7 linked regions of the Homo sapiens genome follow. The protein of the gene in region 2 purifies or fractionates together with the protein of the main gene of each other region. This does not show direct contact. Each region holds a gene or a part of one and is shown on either strand. Other genes may lie near its edges.

Region 1 (3,500 bases), on a different chromosome or scaffold from region 2:
AGCGAGGGGGAGCCATATGTTCCACACGCCCACTGCAGGTCCCATCCCTGGGCCCCAAAGTAAAGGCGCCACCAGACAGCCAATGGTATGGCAAGAAGAGGGGAATCTTTATTTTGGTTAAAAAAAAAAAAGGTACAGGATAGCAGACAAGCAGCCCCCAGCCCTGGGCTCAGCTGATTTTCCTTGGCTCAGCTCTTTCCTTTAGTCCCCTGAAGTGTATGGGGCTGTGCACGGCTAGCTTGGTCCCTCAGTGCCTAGAGCAAAGGAGGCACGCACCCTCCCTACATCCTACCTACTCTGGTGGAGGGTTGGGGGTGGGAGGTGGACAGGCCGTGGGAACAGTATCAAGCCAGTTGTGCTTAGAACAGTCACCAAACTTGTTCAGCAGCGTCATCCACCATCAACACCCCAGACAGCTCCTGAGGAAACCTGCTGGGCTTGACTATGGCTATGCCTGATCTGAGGGGGTGGAGGGGCAGGCTCTAAGGCCAGATTCCTAGTCTTGACACCTCACAAATCCGGGAAGGGGAAGTCAGTGGAGGAGAGAGGGAGCATATCAGCGTAGAGTCACATTATTGTGCTGATGGCTGCGTTATGGCTTTCTACACTCTGGCCGGCATGGAGCGGGAATGGGGCAAAGAGGCCAGCCCCTGCCCCCTATGGGGGTCCTAGAGAGCACACAGGCCGGGCAGGCTGGGGGGCAGACCCTGTAGGCACAGATGGTGGCAGATGGGCCACAGGTTAGGCAGGTGGAGGTGCCGGGTGCCTGGCTCCCCCCAGGCCATTCCTGGAGAGGCAGAGAGCAGCGGTCCTCAGGAGGTCCTTAAGCCCCCGCACACACTGGAGATCCCCGGCAGGACAGCAAAGAAGGAGAAGAGAGAGGGTTAGCAGGCCTGGGAGGAGGGAGGCGGCCTGCAGGGGCCCCGGTGGTGGGGAGAGGTGCTGCCACAGCACCTGCCTCTGCCCGAGAGAAGGGCCAAGGCTTAGGCAGCAGGCAATGAAGCAGGAGAGAAAACGGGCGGGTGAGAGAAAGCTCAGCGGGGACAGAAAGCCAGGACATAAGAGTGTTAGTGACCGGTGGCCCCTGCATACCAGGACCCCACCAGCACAGACCCAAGCACCTCAGGGCAGGTTCGCCATCCTCTCCCCAGCCTCACCCTCCACCTCCTCTTCCAGCTGGAGAGCTGCTCTGCGAGAAGCTACTTCCTCAGTCCACAATGGGGCTGGGCTTTTAGCCTTGCCCTATATCCCGATCCTTCTGCTTAGCGGGGAGTCCCTGGAGACCCTACCACCACCAGCACACACACCGCACCACACACCAGACAGATGGACGGGCTCCATGGGGTTGGCGAGGCATGCGATGAGGATGAGATGGTGTGTGAGGGGAGCGGGCAGTGCTGGCCGACAGGGAAGAAACGGTCTTACCAGCTAACCCTCTGCAAAGAGGCCTGTTAGCTCCCCTCAGGCTGTGCAGGAGATGGCAAAATCCTGACAGGTGTCCTCCTGAGGGAGATACCAGAGAGGTGGGCCAGTGTTATGAGTTGTCTGGCTGGGCCCTGGTGCCCAGGTTGGAGGTGGTAGCCAGGGAAGCTCCGGCTCTCAAACTGGAATCTACTGTCTCAAACATTTTCTTAGCTGGGCACTCATTGGGGATCGGAGTGGAAAGGCAGTAGGGAAGAAGAATTTGGGGGTCTCCAAGCCCCTGAGGCAGGGGAAGGTGGAGGGGACAAAGAGGGGACAGGATGGCCTCTTTTCACGTGCCCATGGGGGCTCAGCCGCAGCCCTCTCTGCTCTTCCTCCAGCGGACAGAGCTCCAGCCAGGTGAGGGAAAATGTAGCCAGATCACTGGGCTGCCTGCCTTCTCACAGTCTCCCCAGGAAAGAACCAAATTTGTCTGAAAGAACAGAGGGCTCCCAGTTGGGGCCTCAGCAAAGGAAAAGCAAACAAAAACCAAACCAAAGCAAAGCAACTCTTATAAACTGAAGTTTTATTACAAGCAGGAACAAAGAATACTGGCTTAAATAAAAGGTAGGTGGGAGCCCCCTCCTCTAGCCAGCTTCTTCCTCACCTCCCAGGGCCACTGCAGTGATGGCCCAGGGCCCTGAGGCTGGGGTGAAGCTGTTTCTCCCAGAGGGGACCCTCTGTGGCTGCCATTCCCAGCTGTCTGTGACCACTAGCCTCTGGAGTGAGAAGGGCAAGATCTGGGGACTTCCTATGTCACTTTCCAAGGGCTTCAGCCCACTTGAAGGGCCAAGGAGGGGGATGGTGGAACAATATCTATTTTGATAAGAAACTACAGCTCCCAGCAGAGGAGAAACATCCTCTGAGTTTCCGGCCCAGACTCAGGCCAACCTTCACTTGCCTCTTGGCCCACCCTGCACCTTCTTCCTTTTCTCTGGATGGAGGTCCCCGTTTGGCAGAAACACCTTGTCTTCCAGCTCCTGGCACTGGGTCCCATATTCAGAGCTCAGAGGAGGGGGTGTGGCTTGTAGGATGGCAGCCGCTCCCCAGAGCCATCACCCCACCCACCACGCCCAGGCTCAGCCTGTCTGGGCAGGTCCCAGCTGGAAGCCTCACCTGGGGGCTGGTGGGTAGGGCTGGGGGTAGAGTGGCAGAGTCCCCAGACACTGGCTGTCTGAAGTCCATAGAAGAAGGAAAGATAGGAGGCTGGGCTGAGCCCCAGTGGGAGCCCAGGGTTTTCTCGTGACCAGTGCACGTGCCCCCTGTCCCCTTGGCTCAGAGTGCTTCTGACACTCAAAGGGGATGGGGCAGGGGGCAGCCCAGGGGATATGGGAGCCAGCCACATTCATACAGGGCACACATGAACACACACACACATGCACACACACTCTCACTCATTCCAGCCAGAAGGTCTCTTGGAATAAACTTATTAAAACCAACCAGCCTTCTGATAACCCTTCACCTGGCACTACACAGACAGTAATGTGGCTGACATTTTCTCCTTCCATTTAAAAAAGACTATGTAGAAAAGAGGTCTATAAAATTGTGCAAAATACCCAGCATTAATAAACCCGTTTCAAGTATTGCCAGCATGAGCATAACCCACCCATGCCGGGACCTGGCTTGGGAGAGAAGTGGAGGGGCAGGCTGGGATCCCTTAAAGAGCTCTCCATGGGCAGGGGAAGGACCAGGCTCCCACTTCCACTGTGCTGCCCAGGAACTGCACAGGAGCTGAGGCTGTGGGTGCCTGGCTGGCTGATTTACCTTTGTCTGATACAGGCTGCCCCCACCCACCACCAACCCTGCCTTCTCTACTGGAGCCCCAACTCAATCCTATTGGCCAACTCCATAAAAAAGGGGGGAAAACCCCACCAAAAATCCCACAGAATAAAGGGAAATTATCACCAAGGGAATGAAGGAGCCCACAGACCAAAGCAGCCCATGGAGGCTTCCTCTCCACAGCCAGCTATCCAGAGCTGGCCACTCCTCAGTCCTGCTTCACCCTGAGGACCCTGGCTCAGCAAGGCCCAAGCAGTTCC
Region 2 (3,500 bases):
AGGTTAGTTACATATGTATACATGTGCCATGCTGGTGCGCTGCACCCACTAATGTGTCATCTAGCATTAGGTATATCTCCCAATGCTATCCCTCCCCGCTCCCCCGACCCCACCACAGTCCCCAGAGTGTGATATTCCCCTTCCTGTGTCCATGTGATCTCATTGTTCAATTCCCACCTATGAGTGAGAATATGCCAAGTCAATCCTAAGCCAAAAGAACAAAGCTGGAGGCATCACACTACCTGACTTCAAACTATACTACAAGGCTACAGTAACCAAAACAGCATGGTACTGGTACCAAAACAGAGATATAGATCAATGGAACAGAACAGAGCCCTCAGAAATAATGCCGCATATCTACAACTATCTGATCTTTGACAAACCTGAGAAAAACAAGCAATGGGGAAAGGATTCCCTATTTAATAAATGGTGCTGGGAAAACTGGCTAGCCATATGTAGAAAGCTGAAACTGGATCCCTTCCTTACACCTTATACAAAAATCAATTCAAGATGGATTAAAGATTTAAACGTTAAACCTAAAACCATAAAAACCCTAGAAGAAAACCTAGGCATTACCATTCAGGACATAGGCGTGGGCAAGGACTTCATGTCCAAAACACCAAAAGCAATGGCAACAAAAGCCAAAATTGACAAATGGGATCTAATTAAACTAAAGAGCTTCTGCACAGCAAAAGAAACTACCATCAGAGTGAACAGGCAACCTACAACATGGGAGAAAATTTTCGCAACCTACTCATCTGACAAAGGGCTAATATCCAGAATCTACAATGAACTCAAACAAATTTACAAGAAAAAAACAAACAACCCCATCAAAAAGTGGGCGAAGGACATGAACAGACACTTTTTTTTTTTTTATAAACTTTAGTAACATTGATATGCACTTGGGTATCAGTTCAGAAAGAAAACAATTAGTTTTCCTTTTTGTATAAGCTCTAAATATTCTTATACTATTGTGGTGAAGGCAACACTGTCCTTAACAAGATGCTTTAAAACTTAGTCTCAAAATAAAAATAAAATAAAAATTAAAACAAACGATAAAACTCTTAAAGTCTCTTTAATAGCAGAAGAGCATTAATATGTGTAAACTCATACCACAATCTCAGAAAGGACAAAGCGCCATTCTCACCCCCAAGAAATCATATGTTGACATTTTATTCACACTTTATTATTTTTGGTAAATCAATGTCAAAGCAAACCATAATATTTAACAAAGTTATCTGCTACTTTCAAATCCTCAACAAAACTTCAATTTGTATAATATTTACAAAGTGAAACACAATCAAACCTTGGAAAAACTACTGTCCTCCCTGAGGATATTCAACTGGAGAAAGCCTTCCAGACCTTCAAGAAAAATGGCCTGATTGAGGCTAAGTAACACCACATCTTACTGTTTTCAGAACATACCCAAGTTCTCTCCTGTGTTCCTTCTAGAGATTACAGCACATAGGCAGAAGGGATGTTTTCTAGTTCATGAACAAGGCAGAGAGATACTGAAAGGGGAACCTTCCACGAGCCCATTTGTCCCCTAATTATCATGGGTAGCAACAATAGAGAAATAACACTGAAGTCTTTATCTTCATTTTAAATCAATAAATAGCACATTATAGGGAAAAATGCATGATTGTTCTAGTGAGTTTTAAAAGGCCTATTTACAATTTCAAAAAATTTAACACACATGACAAAGTATAAGCACTGTTATATTTGGCTTACTGTTTGTAGACTAGGAATTTCGGTGTTTAAAACAATAGAGACTAAATGACTCAACCTCATCCTTTTGTAAGTAGAAAATAATAGCACAAAAATTCCTCAGAGACAAACTGGGAAAGGGAGAGGGCAGCTGTGCTTACATTTTAATCATTTTATCAAAACACAAATGCACACTTCTATTAAAAGTATAGGTATATCATATCTTAACTATCATCATTCCAGTTATTAATTCTGCACAATCTAATTATCCATGTTCAGTTTCTACAAAATATCACCTATTTTTAAAATGTGGCCATGCCTTAAATTTGGTTTCTGGATTAATTTTATTTGGTCTTTATTTGCTTTGTAACATTTGCTCTATAAAAAGAAAGGGGCCTTGCTTAGACCTATAAAATAGGACCTTACACAATGTCTACAAATCCAAGCTAAAACATATACTGGGATCAACCAATTTCCATTGTATTTCTGGTATTTAGGACCATCTTCCAAGATTTAATAATTGGAAGGTTTTTAATTGAGAGCTGCTAAGTGTTTTCAGCACCCAAATAAACTAGCGGCTGGCTAAAAGATTACTTATACTTGAAAATAAAAAATCATATGTGAGTTCACAAATATCTGATTAAAACTTACATAGGTAACTTCATTTAAAATCTATCTTGGCTGGGCACAGTGGCTCATGCCTGTAGCCCTAGCACTTTGGGAGGCCGAGACGGGAGGATCGCTTGAGGCCAGGAGTGCAAGACCAGCCTAGCCAACATAGTGAGACCCCATCTCTAGTTTTTTTTAAAAAAGTAAGTAATAAAGGCTGAGTGCTGGGTGCAGTGACTCACACCTGTAATCCTAGAACTTTGGGAGGCCAATGCAGGTGGATTACTTGAGGCCAGGAGTTTGAGACCAGCCTGGTCAATATGGTGAAACTTCATCTCTACTGGCACAAGAATCACTTGAACCCAGGAGGTGGAGGTTGCAGTGAGCCGGGATCGCACCACTGCATTCCAGCCCGGGTGACAGAGCAAGACTCTGTCTCAATTAAAAAAAAAAAAAATCGACCTCAAGAAAACACTGTTTATTAAGCACTAACCACATGTAAGGAAAATTATTAATTCTAATATACATTTTATAGTTGAGAGAATTCAGAGAGATTAATTTGTCCAAGATCTCATAATTAGTATAAACTGACTAGCACCCAATTACCAATTTCTTTTTACAAATGACATCAGTACTTCTATTTCAGCAAATACACTTTGACAAATACAATTAAAATTTTATCAACAAATGTAATAACAACTCAAGCCTTTTAATACTTCACTAAGCATGAATAAAATACTCAAGAGATGTGCTTCTACCTTAAATTAGCAATATTATGGACTTCTGTAAATAGTCATTCCAGATGATAAAGTTTCTACCTATGTGAATTCAGCTTTACCCTCCCCTCCTACATTCATACCAACTATCAACATATCCCTTGGAGCTGGTCACCTCTTTGCACCTCCCCTGCTCCCTTCCTAATCCAGGCTATCTCACTCTTGCCTGGACTTCTGTGGAGCTTCCTGACTAGTTTCCCTACTTCTATTCTTATGCCTTTTTTCCACAAAGCAAAGAGATCTCTTTAAAATGAAAATCTTGCTGGGCGCAGCGGCTCAGGCCTTTAATCCCAATACTCTGAGAGGCTGAGGTGAGAGGATCGCTTGAGCCCAGGAGTTCGAGACCAGCGTGGACAACACAGTGAGACCCTGTCTCTATTACAAAAATAAATAAAATGAAAATCTCAT
Region 3 (3,500 bases), on a different chromosome or scaffold from region 2:
ATGTCATTCTAGGCTACCCTTCTGGGCCCAACTCAAATCTGACCTCCTCCCAGTACTAAAGAATTTCTAATATTTAGTTATGTTGTAAACACTAGATTTCTCCAGCAACACCAGCACTCAGAATCATTATGAAATAACTAGGAAGAAAATTCTAGCTGCATAAAAATCGTGTGTTAAAAATTTACGGTATGACACAGGGCATGCATTTTTAAGAGGTACTAACAGCTCCACCCAATGCAAATAACCTGCTGTATGTGTGTAAAGCTGAAAAATTGCTTGGCTACTCAAGGAAACTCTCATATTAGCTTTGGGGGCAGGGGCGGGAGGAGATCAGACACACTTGAAATAGCAGGTTTCCCCCTAAATCCAAGGCAGGAATTCCTTTGCTCAGTAATCACCATACTGATGACACACAACTCTGTGCTTGGCAGGAGGGACCCAAGGCACCAGGAGGCCCCTGTCTTCTCAGTGTTCCCAGGCCTGCAGGGCTACACATGCCAGTGATACAGAGAGTGATAAAGAATGCCACAGGGTCCCTTACCTGGGCTTTATACATGTGAGAGCCACAAAACTAAGGCAGGGTGGAAGGCAAGATAGCCAGTGCTTACATGGAATCTGGTGGAGGGGCTCACATTTCCCACTTTCACCCATCAGTCTCCACAACGCTATTCCCTTCCCTGTACCAGTGTCAGCACAGTTTAGTTTACCAGTGGAGGAGGGAGATGGCCACCCAGCATTTTCACTGAAGCTTCCCTATCATTGATCGTGGTAGTGTCCCAATGCCCAGCAGTGATGGGCCCACCTTGGCCAAGCCAAAAAGGTGCCTGTGATGCCTATGTGACCTTGGGCCCTGGGTACTGTGAATGCAGAAGCGCCTGCCTGGCCAGCCCAGCTTGGCCTTCATTCTCCTGTGTTCATGGGCGGGAGAGCACATCCGTAATGCCACTGTCCTGCCCACGGCCCAAGAGGATGCCAAACCAAGAGTCTAAGCCCAACAAGAACACAGAGCCTGGGAGCAATGGAACATGAAGGAGAGTCAGCCACGATGGGTGCTGGGCAGAATCCTCACGGCAGGAAGGCCTGAGAGGCATATCAAGCACCACTGAGCTGTAGCCCACTTTGCTGGCTTCCCCTCCCTTCCACAACCTTCCCCTTTTGGAGGCCACAACGAAGTTTTGGGCCATCGGTATCTGCAGAGCCAGAATATACAGGAGGAGGCTGATGGATTACAATCTTCTGACCATAATGTGCCAAGAATGCTTTATCTGCCCCCTCATTAACAGAGAGGAAGGGAGGCAGAAGGAGAATGCCCACAGTGGTGACCTGTTTTGCTAAGTCCTAAGCCCAACCCTTTGGCAAGAAAATCGTTTGAAGGTACAGTTTCTCAGGAAAGTGGAGGTGGCCTGTTTCCTCTTCCTGCCCAAAACGTTGGAGGAAGGCCCTCCCTGAGAGAAGGCTCAGTGGCCGTTGGTGGTCGGGGAGGAGGGGAGGGATGTGGTCTATATTTTCTGCAGTGCTGCCTTCACTTTTTTTTTGTGCAGGAAAAATGAGAATGATGGATAAAAAGACCTGAAGAGTGTGGTTGGGCCCCTGACTTGGGTGAGGGCAGGTAGTATGTAAAGAACAGAAAGCAACAGAGTAGCCCAGAAGTAAGCACATCGGGTTGAGAAACCTGAAAATGGATTCTCCAGGAGCTAGAGGACATTATCCCTGGCTTCGCAAGCTTTACCCCTTTATGCTCTTACTTTGTGACTGAAAAGTTCAGTAGCCTCAGTTTCTCCATTAGAGAAACTTGAAGGACCATGCTTATGTTTTGCTATTCAACTGGGAATCAGGGATGCCACACTGGACCAACCTGTAAGTGACAGTGAGTAGCAAGGTGGATAAGGAGGGGCAGAAGGAGGAGCATCTCAGCTCCTTAGAAAGAGCTGGGCAGGGATGTCATTCTGTTGCCTTCTTTACCAAGGAGCCCCAGAATCCAAGACTCTTCCTTTTTGCAAAACCCCAGCTCATCTTTTATCTGCACAAGCCAAAATTACTGCCTCTCCATACTCCTACCACCATAGGGTGGGCCCTCAGCCCTGTGGGTAGGGAGGAGGGAGCTGTGTCAAGTAGGGATAACAAAGAGGGGCACAGATCCACCTTCCAGCTAGTTAAGCAAGAGCTTTATCTTCTGTTTACTCTTGCATTTTTTTCAGATGGATAGTTACCATAGTAACCCCATCGTTAAGGGACACACAAGACAGAGCACCTCAGAAACACACCTTTTATGAGAAGTATATTCAGTGTCCCACCCCTCTCCTGTGCTGCAGCAGCAGAGGGCCGGGGCATTTCACCATGGCCAGGGAAAATGGAGGGTGCCCGACTTAACAAAAGCAGTAACCCAGAATACACACTCATCCCCTGCCAACCATCAGTAATACTCACCCTCTCATCCTTAGTCCAGGTTTAGAAAAAGCCATCGTAAAGGGCTTTCCTGGCTAAGAAAGAGTTGCCTGCTGCAGAGACAGCAGAGGTGCAAAATGCCAGCAACTCAACAAGATGGAACGGTTCCCATCTGCTCTCCAGGGCATGTTCCTATTCAGGGGGGAGCGGAGAGGGTGACTGACTGCTGAGGAATTGGGACAGGGCACACGTCACCAAAGGAGATGTCCTGATGTAGTTTTCTTCCCTGTAAGTGATCCTCTGCTTTGCAATAATATGGAGGGCAAAGTCATGGAGGCCCCAGGCTCAGGGCTGTACAGCAATGCCTGCCTGCCCCCCATGCACACTGGGATGGCCCTCACATTCCCACCAGCAAGGAGGGCTTTCTCCTAGGCTAGAACAGAGCCAACTTAAGCCTCTGCCTCAAAGTGAATGGAGCCGATGCCTTCCTACAAGGGGGAGGGTGGGTTCTTGCACTCAATTCATTTCATGTTTTGGAAGGTTTTGTGAGTCTCTGTTTTGTCTGTGGCTGGTCTAAAAGAAAAGCGATTCTGAGAAAGATAACCAGGAAAACACCAGATCTATGGACACAAAAATCCTTTTCTCCAGAGTTTCCAGAGCTCAGCCCTTGGATTCTCTCTTGAAGGAAATTTTCAGGAGCCACAGCCTGGAGGCTGTAACCAAAATAAATGGAATCCATAAGAAACCACAGGAAGAAACGGAAAAGAACAATTAGGAGAAGAAACAGAACCCCTTACCAGGTTCTCCACCCCATCAAGCCAAGTATTCTCAGTCGGTGACAGTCTAAGTTTTGTTACCAATGACCAATACTAGACTGATTTGGGGCCCAAGGCGCTTAGGGTCTGCTCTGAAGAGGACTGTAAGTGTGGTAAAGTTCCCAATTATAAATGGTGCAAAGGGAACAAGTTGAATGGTGAGCAAACTGGCCAGCTCATTAACTCTTCTAAGATTTTTGTTTTTCAAAACACATAAGCCTCTGGTTCTCACTCCTGGCCAGGGCCAGTCTCTGGCAACTAGTGAGTGGCTGGCACCATCATCTGTAGTGGCCTAGATGA
Region 4 (3,500 bases), on a different chromosome or scaffold from region 2:
AGACTGTCTCAAAAACAAAACAAAAAACAGCAATAATTACAGATAAAAAAAGAAATTTCTAAATTTGATTTATCTGGAGAGGAATATGATGTAATATTTTATCTTATAGTACAAAGTTCTCTAAGATGTATTACTCTATAATGCCCAGTTTGGAGAACATTCTACTTGGTAAGGAGTTAGAGGCAAAAACAAGAGACTTTTACCCCCTATTTAAGTAGTCTGTATGAAGAACACAAAAGACAGCATAAAGCATCGTTTCTGTCATACTTAGCAGTTTTGAAAGGCTTAGCTCATTTGGAACTTTATCCTTCCTGCCTTGATTATTTTTTATACCACTAATCTGTATTATTTGTTGCAACCAATGATCTTTTCATGTCTTGTATGTCTTCCTAAAATCTGAACATAGTTTCTTAGCAACCACACAGATTAAATAAACAAACATGTTAGTAAAAGGGTAAGAGATTTATATATTTAAAAAACCCCTCAGCACCATAGGAAGTTTAAAAAAGTAAAAATAAAAAAATAGACATTTTCTTGTTATAGTCTCTTCCAACTTCTAGTCACTTAAGTATAGTCTTTTCTCATCCCAAGTATTTGACAACTATAATGAATTCCCTGTATGAAATTCATGTTTTCTTTAAGTAGATTACATCTCATTCACAGAACTCCCCCTCTTCATAACACTTTTCTGACTAAAATCTACTGGGCTCACTTTCCCCACTATCTACCATTCACATAAAAAAAAAAAAAAATTGGGAGGCCAAGGTGGGCAGATCATAAGGTCAAGAGTTTGAGACCAGCCTGGCCAATATGGTGAAACTCTGTCTCTACTAAAAATACAAAAATTAGCCCGGTGTGGTGGCACGTGCCTGTAGTCACAGCTACCCGGGAGGCTGAGGCAGAAGAATCACTGGAACCCAGGAGGCAGAGGTTGCAGTGAGCCAAGATCGCACCACTGTACTCCAGCCTGGGCGAGAGAGCAAGACTCCGCCTCAAAAAAAAAAAAAAGAAAGAAAGAAAGAAAAATCTGTGGATACTGTTATCCTGTAAACTATAGAATCCTTTATTTTTCTTTTTTTGAGACAGGGTTGCTCTGTTGCCCAGGCATAATTACAGGTCACAGCAGCCTCCGCTTCTCAGGCTCAAGTGATCTTCCCACCTCAGCCTAACGAGTAGCTGAGGAAGGCACATGCCACCACGCCCAGCTGATTTTTGAATTTTTTGTAGAGACAGGGTTTCACCATGTTGCCCAGGCTGGTCTACAGTTCCTGAGCTCAAGTGATCCGCCCACCTTGGCCTACCAAAGTGCTGGGCCTACAGGCGTGAGCCACTGTGCCTGGCCAAAATATAGGATCCTTTAAAAATGCAGTAGCTGACAGGGATCACATCTTACCTACACTGTCTCCTGTTTAACTTACCATAGTGCCACAAGTTGGGTGTAGTAATTTTTTTATATACAGTTTGTATTAATTTAGAGCATCTCATTTAAAAAAAAGTCTTAGTATTTAAAAAGTGATTTAAAATTACATTATGAAGTTGAAGTATCAACAATAATAGTAACTTAAGAACCTACAAAGTCAAGCTTCTAAAGTATAAATGAAAGAACTTGAGGTTTTTAAAACTTTAGGAATCATTTGTAGGTAGTAACTAGGCTTCAAGCATACTTACAGTTTTCAAAGAATAATACCAGGTATTTCTTGACTTCATACAAGAAGAAAAAGTGGTTATAGTGCACTGTGCTACAATGAGTCTAATAAAAGTTAACTACTAAAAAAAGTTTCCATTAGGGTGGCCAGATAAAGCCTAAATAGAGAAAACAATATTGAACCATTAGGAAATAGGCAGCTTAATCTTCCCCTAACTAATTAAAAAAATACATGCCTTTTTTTTTTTTAAAGCACACCATAGAAATGACGTAGAAAGGGAAAATATCCTGCAATAATATGGCCAGAAATAAGTTTGCTGATAGTCTTCCAATATTTTTCTATGCGCGTTATATATATGTATATACACGCTTTAAACAAATTTGAGATTTAAGTATTGTTTGGTAGCTGTTGGAAAAATTAAGCTGTTTTTGAGAAATTAATTTGATTTTTGCAAGAAACAAATATGCTAGAAAAATTTCAAAATGTTCACTTAATGTAACCTTGTCAGCAAAACTGAGCTTCAAATATAGTTTAACTCTCATTAACATGATATGTCTGACTGAAATGGAATACTTCTGTAATCCTGATCACTTAGCTCCAAATTATTTTAAGACATGGATTTTCTAAATATATCAAAGTACTATAATCAACTTGTAAATATAAGTTAGCAAGGAACACGGAGTTAAAAAAAAAAAAAGGCATAAGCATAAGGGATATGTAGACATGTCAAGAAAATAACATTACTTGAATGTAAACAACCAAAAAGGTTTTAGTTAGAATAACCTATAAAAAATTAAGTTAAAAGTCCAAATTCTCTATTAAAAAACTAACCTAATGGAGATTTAAAAAATTCTGTCAATCTAAATTTTTCTAAAGTTCTTATGAACATAATAGAGTTGCCTAAAGCATAAATCAATTATATTTCAATAAATATTTGAGTATCTATGTGTTATGCATCTGGAATGCAAAGGTGTTTACATCTGGTAGGAAAGACAGGTATATACAATGTGCTACTAACAGTGTATGTACATATAGTACAAAAATAATACTAGAATGAAGGTGACAATGGGAAACATTTTGAAGAACGACTAGCTTATCCTGTGGAAGGGCAAGAGATGCAGTCTAATAAAACATGAACAAAACAGCAGTGATGTAGTCCGAAAATCAGTCAGTTTGATATGGCTAAAACATCAAGTATGCTTGTGTATAAATGCGGAAGCTGAAAAAGAACCAATTTTATGACGGCCTCGTATATGGACGCATTTGGTTATCTTCTCTATAATTATTCTCTTGGTGATCTCATTCAATCTTGTAGTTGTGTGGCTTTAATGCTGCCAATTTCCAAATTTCTGTCTCTAGCCTATAGTTCACTCCTGAACTCTACATTCCTAGATCCAAGCAATCTCCAGCAGACACTTCAAAGTGAACATACTGCAAACAATTTCAAATCTTTGTTCCAAAATCTGCTTTGCTTGCAGTTTTTCCTGTCAATTGATGGCCTCTCCATCCTTGGCTGCAGTATATGTTAACTCCAAGTCTTTGTTCACATGGTATCTCAAAAAGGCTTACTCTTGATACACTTTTTTCCTTTTCTTTTTTTTTTTTTTTGAGACGGAGTCTCCCTCTGTTGCTCAGGCTGGAGTGTAGCGGTGCAATCTCAGCTTATTGCAACCTCCGCATCCTGGGTTCAAGCAATCCTCCTGCCTCAGCCTCCTAAACAGCTGTCATTACAAGCATGTGCCACCACTCCTAACTAATTTTTGTATTTTTAGTAGAGATGGGGTTTCACCATGTTGGCCAGGCTGGTCTTGAAATTATGGCCTCAAGTGATAGGCTCGCCCACCCTGGCCTCCC
Region 5 (3,444 bases), on a different chromosome or scaffold from region 2:
GCCAGCTGCCAACCTTGAAATACAAATTAAACATTTAAGTTGGCATAATGAACATTTCCAGGAAGGGCAGTGGCTAATAATCTGTAGGACAAGGCTACCAGGTTTACTATGGCTCCTCTTCAAATGACAATGACAAAGATTTGAAGTAATAAGGCCAGAAAAGCCTTTTCATTTCCAAAATCATCTTTCCTGGAAGACTTGGAAGTTCAAACTTCACTACGTGAGATTTCACTGCTCTCATATCAAGCCGACTGACCTCCATAGCTCAAGAGACTACCTGTTAGCTGATCCCCTAAAGCATGGAGGATCGATTCAGGAAGGGGGATCTATTCAGGAAGAGATCTATGCATCAGGGTTAGCTGTATGAGAAGTATGAGAAAATCTGCTTATATTATTTTTGGCTACAGACAGGTGTTTCCAATTTCTCATGTTTAGTCTTAAATGCATCCAAGTTTGTGTGTGTGTGTGTTGGGGGTGGAGGGAAGAACCAGATACACTTATTTTCAAACAAAAGCTGCCACATGTTTATTAAGACATTACTGGCTCTTAAGCACAGCTGGATCTATAAATCATTTTCCATATATTATCACATATTCAGGAAAGTTTCTGAGATGATATATCAAGACAGGCTTCTCTTGTGACTCAACTGGACCTGAGGAAAGAACAAAAGAAATTACATACCTGATTTATAGCTGCTGGTCATCAACAGACACGTACTGGCAATGTAATCTTTTGAGACAGGAGAGCTAAACTGCTTTCCCCTCCTTGCTAAAGCTTTGCCCAAAATGCCTGTACCTTTAAAAATCCTTTGTCCTAATTAAATCTATCTGCATTCTCAAAGTCCCTCAACATTCATTAATCTCTGAGGAGACCAAACAGTCAACTGTGATGAAGAGGCCAATTGCAAAGCTCAATCTCAGAACCACCACATCTCAGGCCTGAAAGGACACCATGAGAAGGGAAGGATGTTCTATGGTTTTAAATATTGGGCAGCAGAACTAATGGCCAGCCCCATTATCTAGCTCTGTGAAACAGAGCAAGCTGCTAATCTCTCAAGAAACATATATATAATAAGAGGATTCAAGCTCATACAAGCTATAGCTATATCTGAAGACCCATCTCTCTGTGTTATTAAGTCTTTTGTGGATTAAACATGTTCAGTAATTACAATTTTGATGAGAATTATTGAATGCAACATTAGAGATCAGACCTCAGAAGAACCGAGCCAGATTGCTGTGATTTGGGATAAGAAAGGAGGGTCCAACTTCAGCTAGACAGTTCCTGATCTACTTCCAACCCACCCCTCTAAATAAAGATGCAGTAACTTAGGGGTAGAGAAACAAAGCTCAGCTAATGTGCTGCTTCCACCAACTGACAGCAATGGGTGTATCTTAAAACCTGCAGAATTTGTAAGAAAAGGGTTTTCTTACTTCAAATAGTCTCTTTAGAAGTCTGAGTAATGGTGCAACCTGGAAAAGTAAAAAATAAGTCATCTGAACAACTTTGTAATTACCCACAGTGTTTTCAATTAGATCACAGAAGGGCACTTAGGAAGATTTTAGTGGGAAAAATATGTAATCACAATCATTCACACCAGGCAGTTAGGTTCAGACTCCTCAATCTGACATTCTGGAGGATCTGAACGCCTCAGATTTTAGGTAACATGAGTAGGCTTACTCCAAAGTTTCACATGGGGGGTCTATGAAATACCTGATCAGACATAAACAATAAAAATGTCATCAGTCAATTCCAGTCACTGGTATAGCTAGAAACAGTGTCATTCTAAAGAGCAATGCTCTGGTGGAAAATCTAATGGCCTTTGGGTCTTAGAGAAAAAAAAATTTCACTTATAAAAATACCAAAGGATTTGGAAGAAAATTCTAAGTGCAATAAGAATCTGCATCCTTTTATAAAATACAAACTGAAACAGAACCACTCCAAATCTGATCTGAAATGAGACTGATGAAATTATCCTGGTATAACCTGTTTTCCTTTCAAAGTAAGTAGAACTGTAAACCACATTATTGTCTGGTATATTCTCCTTTCACAACTATTTCCTCAAAACCAATTTACATTCCTCCTTTTCTTCACTCCAGATTTTAGTCCGTTTTGAAAGCAGGAATTCCCTAAAGCATACAAACATAAACACAGGGTTCTATGTAGCATTCACTACCAACACAAGGAGCAAGGCAAGAGGGCTGTGATTTACATCACAAGTTTTCTACTGAAAGCTCTTTAGTTCTCCCTAAAGATCCACCTTGTCACCTATATCTTCTAGCAATGATGCAATTAGGTTTTGTTTGTTCCTGTTTTATAGCCAAGTATGTTGGGTACAGAAAAGAACCTGGACAGCGCATATAAGTTTTGGTTATCTTTGTGGTTAACACCCTTATTTACAGCTTACAGCTACAGGGAAAGAAACACCTTTTAAAAAGAAATCAATTAAATCTAGTGGAGTAAACTGAATTATTAAATCAGCAAAAGCTAATCTAAACATAAGGCACGAAGAAAGTGGAAATATTATTAAAGTGGCTTTTTCTCAATTTGACATTCTCAAAATAGTGCTTTCCAAAAAATATATATATTCCCCAGGTGAAGTTTCCTGCTAGTGACATTTTATGGTAGAAAATTACCCAAAGTACTGCCCAAGGTTATTTATAGATTCAATGCCATCCCCATCAAGCTACCAATGACTTTCTTCACAGAATTGGAAAAAACTACTTTAAAGTTCATATGGAACCAAAAAAGAGCCCGCATAGCCAAGTCAATCCTAAGCCAAAAGAACAAAGCTGGAGGCATCATGCTACCTGACTTCAAACTATACTACAAGGCTACAGTAACCAAAACAGCAGGGTACTGGTACCAAAACAGAGATATAGACCAATGGAACAGAACAGAGGCCTCAGAAATAATGCTGCATATCTACAACCATCTGATCTTTGACAAACCTGACAAAAACAAAAAATGGGGAAAGGATTGCCTATTTAATAAATGGTGCTGGGAAAACTGGCTAGCCATATGTAGAAAGCTGAAACTGGGTCCCTTCCTTACACCTTATACAAAAATTAATTCAAGATGGATTAAAGACTTACATGTTAGACCTAAAACCATAAAAACCCTAGAAGAAAACCTAGGCAATACCATTCAGGACATAGGCATGGGCAAGGACTTCATGTCTAAAACACCAAAAGCAATGGCAACAAAAGCCAAAATTGACAAATGGGATCTAATTAAACTAAAGAGTTTCTGCACAGCAAAAGAAACTACCATCAGAGTAAACAGGCAACCTACAAAATGGGAGAAAATTGTCGCAACCTACTCATCTGACAAAGGGCTAATATCCACAATCTACAATGAACTCAAACAAATTTACAAGAAAAAAACAACCCCATCAAAAAGTGGGCGAAGGATATGAACAGACACTTCTCAAAAGAAGACATTTAT
Region 6 (3,500 bases), on a different chromosome or scaffold from region 2:
TGAGGCAGGAGAATCACTCGAACCCAGGAAGCGGAGGTTTCAGTGAGCCGAGATCGCGCCATTGCACTCCAGCCTGGGCAACAAGAGCTAAACTCCATCTCAAAAAAAAAAAAAAAAAACACTATAGTAGTATTTTAAAACTTTAGGACTTTGAGAAATCATGAACGTCTTAGGGTGTATTATGTATATCAAGAGTTTATTATAGTGGGCTACACTATTCCAGTAATATTTCTGTTCATTTAGTACTGTAGCACTTTTCATTTTTTAAAGTATATTATAAAACTGATTTTCCCTGGCCTCTAATGTTGGTCTTTTCTCCCCCAAAATTATGCTTTATCATACCACATGAACAGTAGTACGGTGGTGGTGGTGGTGGTGGTGGTTGTTGTTTTGAGACAGAGTTACACTCTTGTTGCCCAGGCTGGAGAGCAATGGCACAATCTCAGCTCACTGCAACCTCTGCCTCCCGAGTTCAAGTGATTCTCCTGCCTCAGCCTTCCGAGTAGCTGGGGTTACAGGCATGCACCACCATGCCTGGCTAATTGTTTTTGTATTTTTAGTAGAGACGAGGTTTCGCCATACCGGTCAGGCTGGTCTCAAACTCCTGACCTCAGGTGATCCACCTGCCTCGGCCTCCCAAAGTGCTGGGATTACAGGTGGAAGCCACCGCACCTGGCCCAGTACAGTGTTATCAGGTGAAAAATATCTTGATGTTGTTTTTGAGGTTGTGTTACAACTTGAGTAGATACCTTGTGAAATATCTATTTTTTCACATTTGGGAGCTGCCTCTCTCTACATTCAAATGTTATCTGAAGTAGCCTCTAAATGGTTCCATGTATCTTTTTGAACTTCCTTCTTTTAGTAGACATTTTTGAACATCTGTATGAACAAGGATTTATATTAAATGTTGGTACAGAGAGGAGCTACTACAAGTTGAGCATCCCTAATCTGAAGTCTGAAATGCTCCCAAATTCTTCGAGCATCAATATGATGTCACAAGTGAACAATTTCCACACTTAACACCTTTGCTTTCTGATGAGTCAGTGTACATAAACTTGGTTTAATGCACAAAATTATTTTAGCTTCAGGCTATGTGTACAAGCTTTATGTGAAACAAACGAATTTCATGTTTTGACTTGGATCCCTTCCCAAAAATATCTCATTATGCAAATATTACAAAATCTTTAAAAATCCAAAACATTCCTGGTTCCAAGCATTTCAGATAAGGGATACTTAACCTGTGGTCATTGCTCAAGTAACTCCCAATCAAGGAGAAGAAAAAGATATAAACCAATGATTATAAAAGGTGTGAAACGTTATTACACAGAGAACTCTGGGAGCACAGATGTAGGAGATATTAACTAGGGTGGAATGAAGGAAGGTTTCTAAGCAGAGTTGAGGAATGAATTGATTATCTTCTTTGTTAATCTGAATGGGATCCATTCCTGTTCAGCATGATTTCCCTTGGTTTTGTTCCTAGATTTAGGAATGATGCCCTGTTTTGCCATAAGGAAGAATCTCGTGTGTTTATTAGGAATGGATATTGACTCAAATGCCTTTTTGTAATTTGTTTAAATAAAATGGATTTTTCTTCATTAGCCTGTTAATGTAATAGTTTTGTATTTCTGAAAGAATGTACTTGGTAATGGGCATTTGTTTGTCTTAATGTATTTGTTGCAATTTCTTTGTATTTGGCATTTTTGTACATGTATGGTGTACATGTATGGTGGCCTCTTGTGTCTTTAACTGGCTTGAGAATTGGATCATATTTTCTTTAAGGCAACATCTCTAATACAGTTGGCCCTCTGAATCTGTGAGTTCCACATTTATAAATGCAACCAACTGCAAGTTGAAAATATTAAGGGGGAAAAAATTAACTTAGCTCCAAAAAGCAAAAATTAAATTTGCCACACACTTAATACTATGTTGAATCTATGTGGATGACGTGAGGTGCAGGCATTGTATTAGATATTATAAGTAATCTAGAGATGCTTTAAAGTATACAGGAGGATGTGCTTAGGTTATATACACATACTTTGCAATTTTATATCGGGGACTTGAGCATCCTCAGATTTTGTTATCCATTGGGGATTCTAGAACCAGTCCTTCATGATATATGGGGAGGTCCTGGAAACAGTCCTCCACAGATACTGAGGGATGACTATAGTTATTTCCCTGAGCCTGAAGTTTACTTATGGACGTATAAGTGAATGTTTTTAGTACTAGTAGACTTTGTGATCATAGTATGTCTGAAAAATGAAACAGTCTGTGCACATTTTAATTCCTTTTTTTTTTTTTGCAAGTCTGCATCAAACTATACTTGAAAAAAGGCTTATGTATTGTGACTTATTTTCCTCTTTTCCTTTTTGGTAAGAGTACTGTCTTAGGGACTTAATTTTAGTTTAAAATTTTAGTTTAAAAACATTTTTTGATCCTACAGGAGAACCTCTCGTGACCTTCAAAAAGTGACATAGTGCTGTCTGGATATCCTTTACCATAAATACAATATTTTAGAAAATGGACAATTCTGCTAATTGTTGGTTAAAAAAAAGTTTGAACTGGATTAGAATATATTTACAATGTGATTAATGAGAATTCATAAAACTATTAATTAGAATCTAGGTCCAAATGAAGATGTTTACAGTATTGTTTGCAAAATTCAGAAGATTTTAGTTGTTGATACTAAAGCCAGCAACCAGTTAACCTAAAAGAGCGTGAAAAATAAATGTTGTGTCTAACGTAAAAGAGATATATCTCATTAGACTTTGTTTCTTTAGCACATTTGATACTGGTTAGTACATCTCTATCAACGTCACTAGATAAACGGCTGTAATTTAGAGAAATATATCATAATTCTTTTGCATAATATGACAGTTTTAGAAAATGGTAATTCAAGTGCATACCAATTTGGAAATAGGGCTTGAATATCACACCTTGAGCTAAATGTAGAAGGAAGGGAGGAGCATACCAATTTACAGTGAATGATAGAGCAGCAGCAGAGGGCGGTCTAATGGCTGTGTGTAGGTCTTTTAATTTTAACAATATTGTATCATTTTATAATGCTACTTTTTTTTTTTTTTTGAGACAGAGTCTCTGTTGCCAGGATGGAGTGCAGTGGTGCGATCTCAGCTCACTGCAACCTCTGCCTCATGGGTTCAAACGACTCTCCTGCCTCAGCCTCCCGAGTAACCGGAACCACAGGCAAGCGCCACCATGTCGAGCTAATTTTTGTATTTTTAGTAGAGACAGGGTTTCACCATGTTGGCCAGGATGGTCTTGATCTCCTGACCTCGTGATTTGCCTTCCTCAGCCTCCCAGAGTGCTGGGATTACAGGCATGAGCCACCACGCCTGGCCTATAATGCTACTTTCCTAGTGTTAAAATTAGAATCAGGGAAAGTACAGATCCAAAAAATTCTTATGGCAGGGAATGAAAGGTAGGAGCAAATATTGAATCAACTGAACAAATTAAATCTAGGTTAAGGTAATAATGACTACCAC
Region 7 (2,871 bases), on a different chromosome or scaffold from region 2:
TGGCTGGTGTCTAAGCACCTGTCACTGTTAGGTATTTGGTCTCAGAATCCCCAAATTAAGGAACAGTGATGTATAGCCATTCCCCAAATTAGGATATAGGCTAAAAGCACATTTTCATTTTGAAACTCAGAACTATTCAAAACTAGCTAAGTTTTATGCCACTAATAAACTTTTGAACATAAGTGTATCAGTCATAAAATGGTCATATTAATGACCAGTTTTTTAAAAAAGACAGCATATATTTAGTTGATCAATTATAAGTGGATAATTGTAGGAGCTGAAGCACACTAAATGTGTTTTAAAAATTTACATGAATGATAATAACTATAATCCATTAAGCTATAAAAATATTCTATATTAGTTTCAGATATCCAAATCTTTATAAAACTAAGGAATTTAAAAAATAATTACTGGTTTATTCCCATAAATTTTTCATTTTCTAAATAAGGCTGAAGTGATCTTTTTGGTAGAAGTTTAAAAATCTTTTAACTTAAAATGGATAATAAAGACTCAAACAGTCTAAATTCATCTGAAGCCTGAAACAATGGAAGAGGAAGTAAGGATATCATAATGAATAGAGAAATTTTAAGAGTTCAATAGATAAAAGCTGATAATATACAGTAGGTGAACTAGGGAGTTATTAGTCACTTCACCAAAGAAATACCTCCAACTCCCCCAAGTTCTTTTAAAAGACAAGCTCTGTTACACATATGAACTCCTCTGGAAACCTCTAAAAAGCCAAAGGTACTTTTGTAGCACATTTCAAGCCACAACACTTCCAAATATCTTGTAACCTAAGCTCTGGCTAACTAAGGGTAATTTAGCTTATCAGCAGTACCCAAATCAAATGAGCTATTCTGAAGATACGGATTCAGAGAAATCACAAAGGCTCATGTGCTTCTTCATTAAACATTTGTCTATTAATTTCCCCAGCTATTAACAATTGTTGTTAATAGTTGGGAGAAGTTCTGAGAAGAAACTGCGCTGTCACGGAAACATTTCAATCCCTGTATTTGTCACATTCACCAACTATCTGGTGTGCACCAAGTTACTGGGAAGAGGAGCTATCAGTTGTTCCCTCCTCGCTCCCGCCTAGTCCCCTTTCCTTCCCTCTTCTCACACATTACAGTTCCTTGTTCCTGTAGTATTCAGAGACATAAAACAGAGGAGGACCTTCTTGTGCTCTATACCTTATAAGCATCATTTTTGCTTTCATCTTAAGCCATTTAAAAGTAAACAATAGTTATTAAGGAAAAAACTGTTAAACAGATGCAAAGTGGAAGAGATTAAATTAGGAATTTCCATACACGATGATGAACAAGTAAGAATTTTTAAAAATATTTATTTATTTTGAGACGGAGTCTCACTCTGTCACCCAGGCTGGAGTGCAGTGGCGCAATCCCGGCTCACTGCAACCTCCGCCTCCCTGGTTCAAGCGATTCTCCTGCCTCAGCCTCCCGAGTAGCTGGGACTACAGGCGCCCGCCACCACGCTCAGCTATTTTCTGTTTTTAGTAGAGACGAGGTTTCACCATGTTGGTCAGGCTGGTCTCAAACTCCTGAACTCAGGTGATCCGCCTGCCTCGACCTCCCAAAGTGCTGGGATTACAGGCATGAGCCACCATGCCCGGCCACAAGTAAGAATTAATAGAGAAAAAAGAGCCAGTGGAATTCTCCCAAACAAGTCACAAGTAAAACTAAAACACCACATGCGAATTCTGTGTCCACTGAACACAAATCTGCTTAATCCTCTCCCCATTTCACTTAGAGCTCTTATAATCCTGGAGGTTCAATTTTTTGACTTGCATTTAATCAGGGTTTCCCCAATTATAATTTTTGAAAGGAACTGTCTCTCAGAAAATTGAGCACTTTAACTTTTTTAGTCCTCCATTTTGTTTGCTACAAGATTTTATGTAAAGCTGAATAAGGAAGAATTAGTGGCTCAGATCGAAGTGGTCTTTCTTTGAGCAAATTAAATGAGAACTTATCCCTATCTTATAAATGTAGCATCTTAGCACATATATGCCACAAACTCTCTAAAATGATATTATTTTGATGAGCAAATTGTGGCCAAATGTGATTGAGGGTAATGAACTCCTTGGGAAGAATAGTGCTTACTTCATCAGAAGCCAAATACACGCAGAGCATGGCTATTTCTTCTGCAGTTGCGAATCTTCCCGTCTTTTGTCTCTTCAGGAAATCATTCCGTGCCTGTGACCAGAGACCATACCAGACATTAGTGATGGAAGCAGCTGTATGTGCTCACCTGCATCTTGTTCAAGGAGTTAAAGGCAAGAGAATCCACTGGCTTGCTGCCTTGATGAATAATCAACTAGGGTTATGGTGATTCTTTTGCCAAAGTTACTCAAATTGTTTGTGTTATACTAAAACCCACAGATATTGTGACACATCAGAAAGCTAATGTTAAAGGATGAGGGCATTATTTTTTCATCTTCAAAAGTTGTGGTAAAGTATACAGAATATAAAATTTACTATCTTAACCATTTTAAGTGTACAGTTCAATAGTGTTAGGTACATTCACACTGTTGTGCCACCATCACCACTGTCCATCTCCAGAACTCTTATTTTTATTATTATTATTTTTTCTTAGAGACAGAGTCTTGCTCTGTTGCCCAGGCTGGAGTGCAGTGTTGTGATCATAGCTCACTGTTGTACCTCAAACTCCTGGGCTCAAGCGATCCCCCAGCCTCAGCTTCCCAAGCAGAACTCTTTTCATCTTACAAAATGGAACCTCTCTACTCATTAAGCATTAACTACTCTTTTCCCTCCTTCCAAGCCCCTGGCAACTACCATTTCACTTTCTGTCTCTATGAATTTGTCTGCTATAGGTATGGAAGAGGGCATTTATTAA

Evidence for each region.
Region 1: the proteins of GOLGA7 (region 2) and ZDHHC18 purify together in Homo sapiens (co-purification; one study listed by BioGRID). This does not show direct contact.
Region 3: the proteins of GOLGA7 (region 2) and MACROH2A1 purify together in Homo sapiens (affinity purification with mass spectrometry; one large-scale study listed by BioGRID and IntAct). This does not show direct contact.
Region 4: the proteins of GOLGA7 (region 2) and NAA50 purify together in Homo sapiens (affinity purification with mass spectrometry; one large-scale study listed by BioGRID and IntAct). This does not show direct contact.
Region 5: the proteins of GOLGA7 (region 2) and UTP18 purify together in Homo sapiens (affinity purification with mass spectrometry; one large-scale study listed by BioGRID and IntAct). This does not show direct contact.
Region 6: the proteins of GOLGA7 (region 2) and RAB5A purify together in Homo sapiens (affinity purification with mass spectrometry; one large-scale study listed by BioGRID and IntAct). This does not show direct contact.
Region 7: the proteins of GOLGA7 (region 2) and BDH2 purify together in Homo sapiens (affinity purification with mass spectrometry; one large-scale study listed by BioGRID and IntAct). This does not show direct contact.

Annotation. Positions count from the first base shown.
Region 1 is NC_000001.11:26,854,188-26,857,687, reverse strand, and holds the end of ZDHHC18 (palmitoyltransferase ZDHHC18), read right to left. Parts: 3' UTR 84-3,500; downstream 1-83. UniProt on the Homo sapiens protein: Palmitoyltransferase that catalyzes the addition of palmitate onto various protein substrates, such as CGAS, HRAS and LCK. Acts as a negative regulator of the cGAS-STING pathway be mediating palmitoylation and inactivation of CGAS.
Region 2 is NC_000008.11:41,500,582-41,504,081, reverse strand, and holds part of GOLGA7 (golgin subfamily A member 7), read right to left. Parts: intron 1-3,500. UniProt on the Homo sapiens protein: May be involved in protein transport from Golgi to cell surface. The ZDHHC9-GOLGA7 complex is a palmitoyltransferase specific for HRAS and NRAS.
Region 3 is NC_000005.10:135,371,732-135,375,231, forward strand, and holds part of MACROH2A1 (core histone macro-H2A.1), read right to left. Parts: intron 1-3,500. UniProt on the Homo sapiens protein: Variant histone H2A which replaces conventional H2A in a subset of nucleosomes where it represses transcription. Nucleosomes wrap and compact DNA into chromatin, limiting DNA accessibility to the cellular machineries which require DNA as a template.
Region 4 is NC_000003.12:113,725,750-113,729,249, forward strand, and holds part of NAA50 (N-alpha-acetyltransferase 50), read right to left. Parts: intron 1-3,500. UniProt on the Homo sapiens protein: N-alpha-acetyltransferase that acetylates the N-terminus of proteins that retain their initiating methionine. Has a broad substrate specificity: able to acetylate the initiator methionine of most peptides, except for those with a proline in second position.
Region 5 is NC_000017.11:51,294,990-51,298,433, reverse strand, and holds the end of UTP18 (U3 small nucleolar RNA-associated protein 18 homolog), read right to left. Parts: intron 1,470-3,444; coding exon 1,445-1,469; 3' UTR 1,431-1,444; intron 653-1,430; 3' UTR 501-652; downstream 1-500. UniProt on the Homo sapiens protein: Part of the small subunit (SSU) processome, first precursor of the small eukaryotic ribosomal subunit.
Region 6 is NC_000003.12:19,971,097-19,974,596, forward strand, and holds part of RAB5A (ras-related protein Rab-5A), read left to right. Parts: intron 1-3,500. UniProt on the Homo sapiens protein: The small GTPases Rab are key regulators of intracellular membrane trafficking, from the formation of transport vesicles to their fusion with membranes.
Region 7 is NC_000004.12:103,079,964-103,082,834, forward strand, and holds part of BDH2 (dehydrogenase/reductase SDR family member 6), read right to left. Parts: intron 2,211-2,871; coding exon 2,118-2,210; intron 1-2,117. UniProt on the Homo sapiens protein: NAD(H)-dependent dehydrogenase/reductase with a preference for cyclic substrates. Catalyzes stereoselective conversion of 4-oxo-L-proline to cis-4-hydroxy-L-proline, likely a detoxification mechanism for ketoprolines.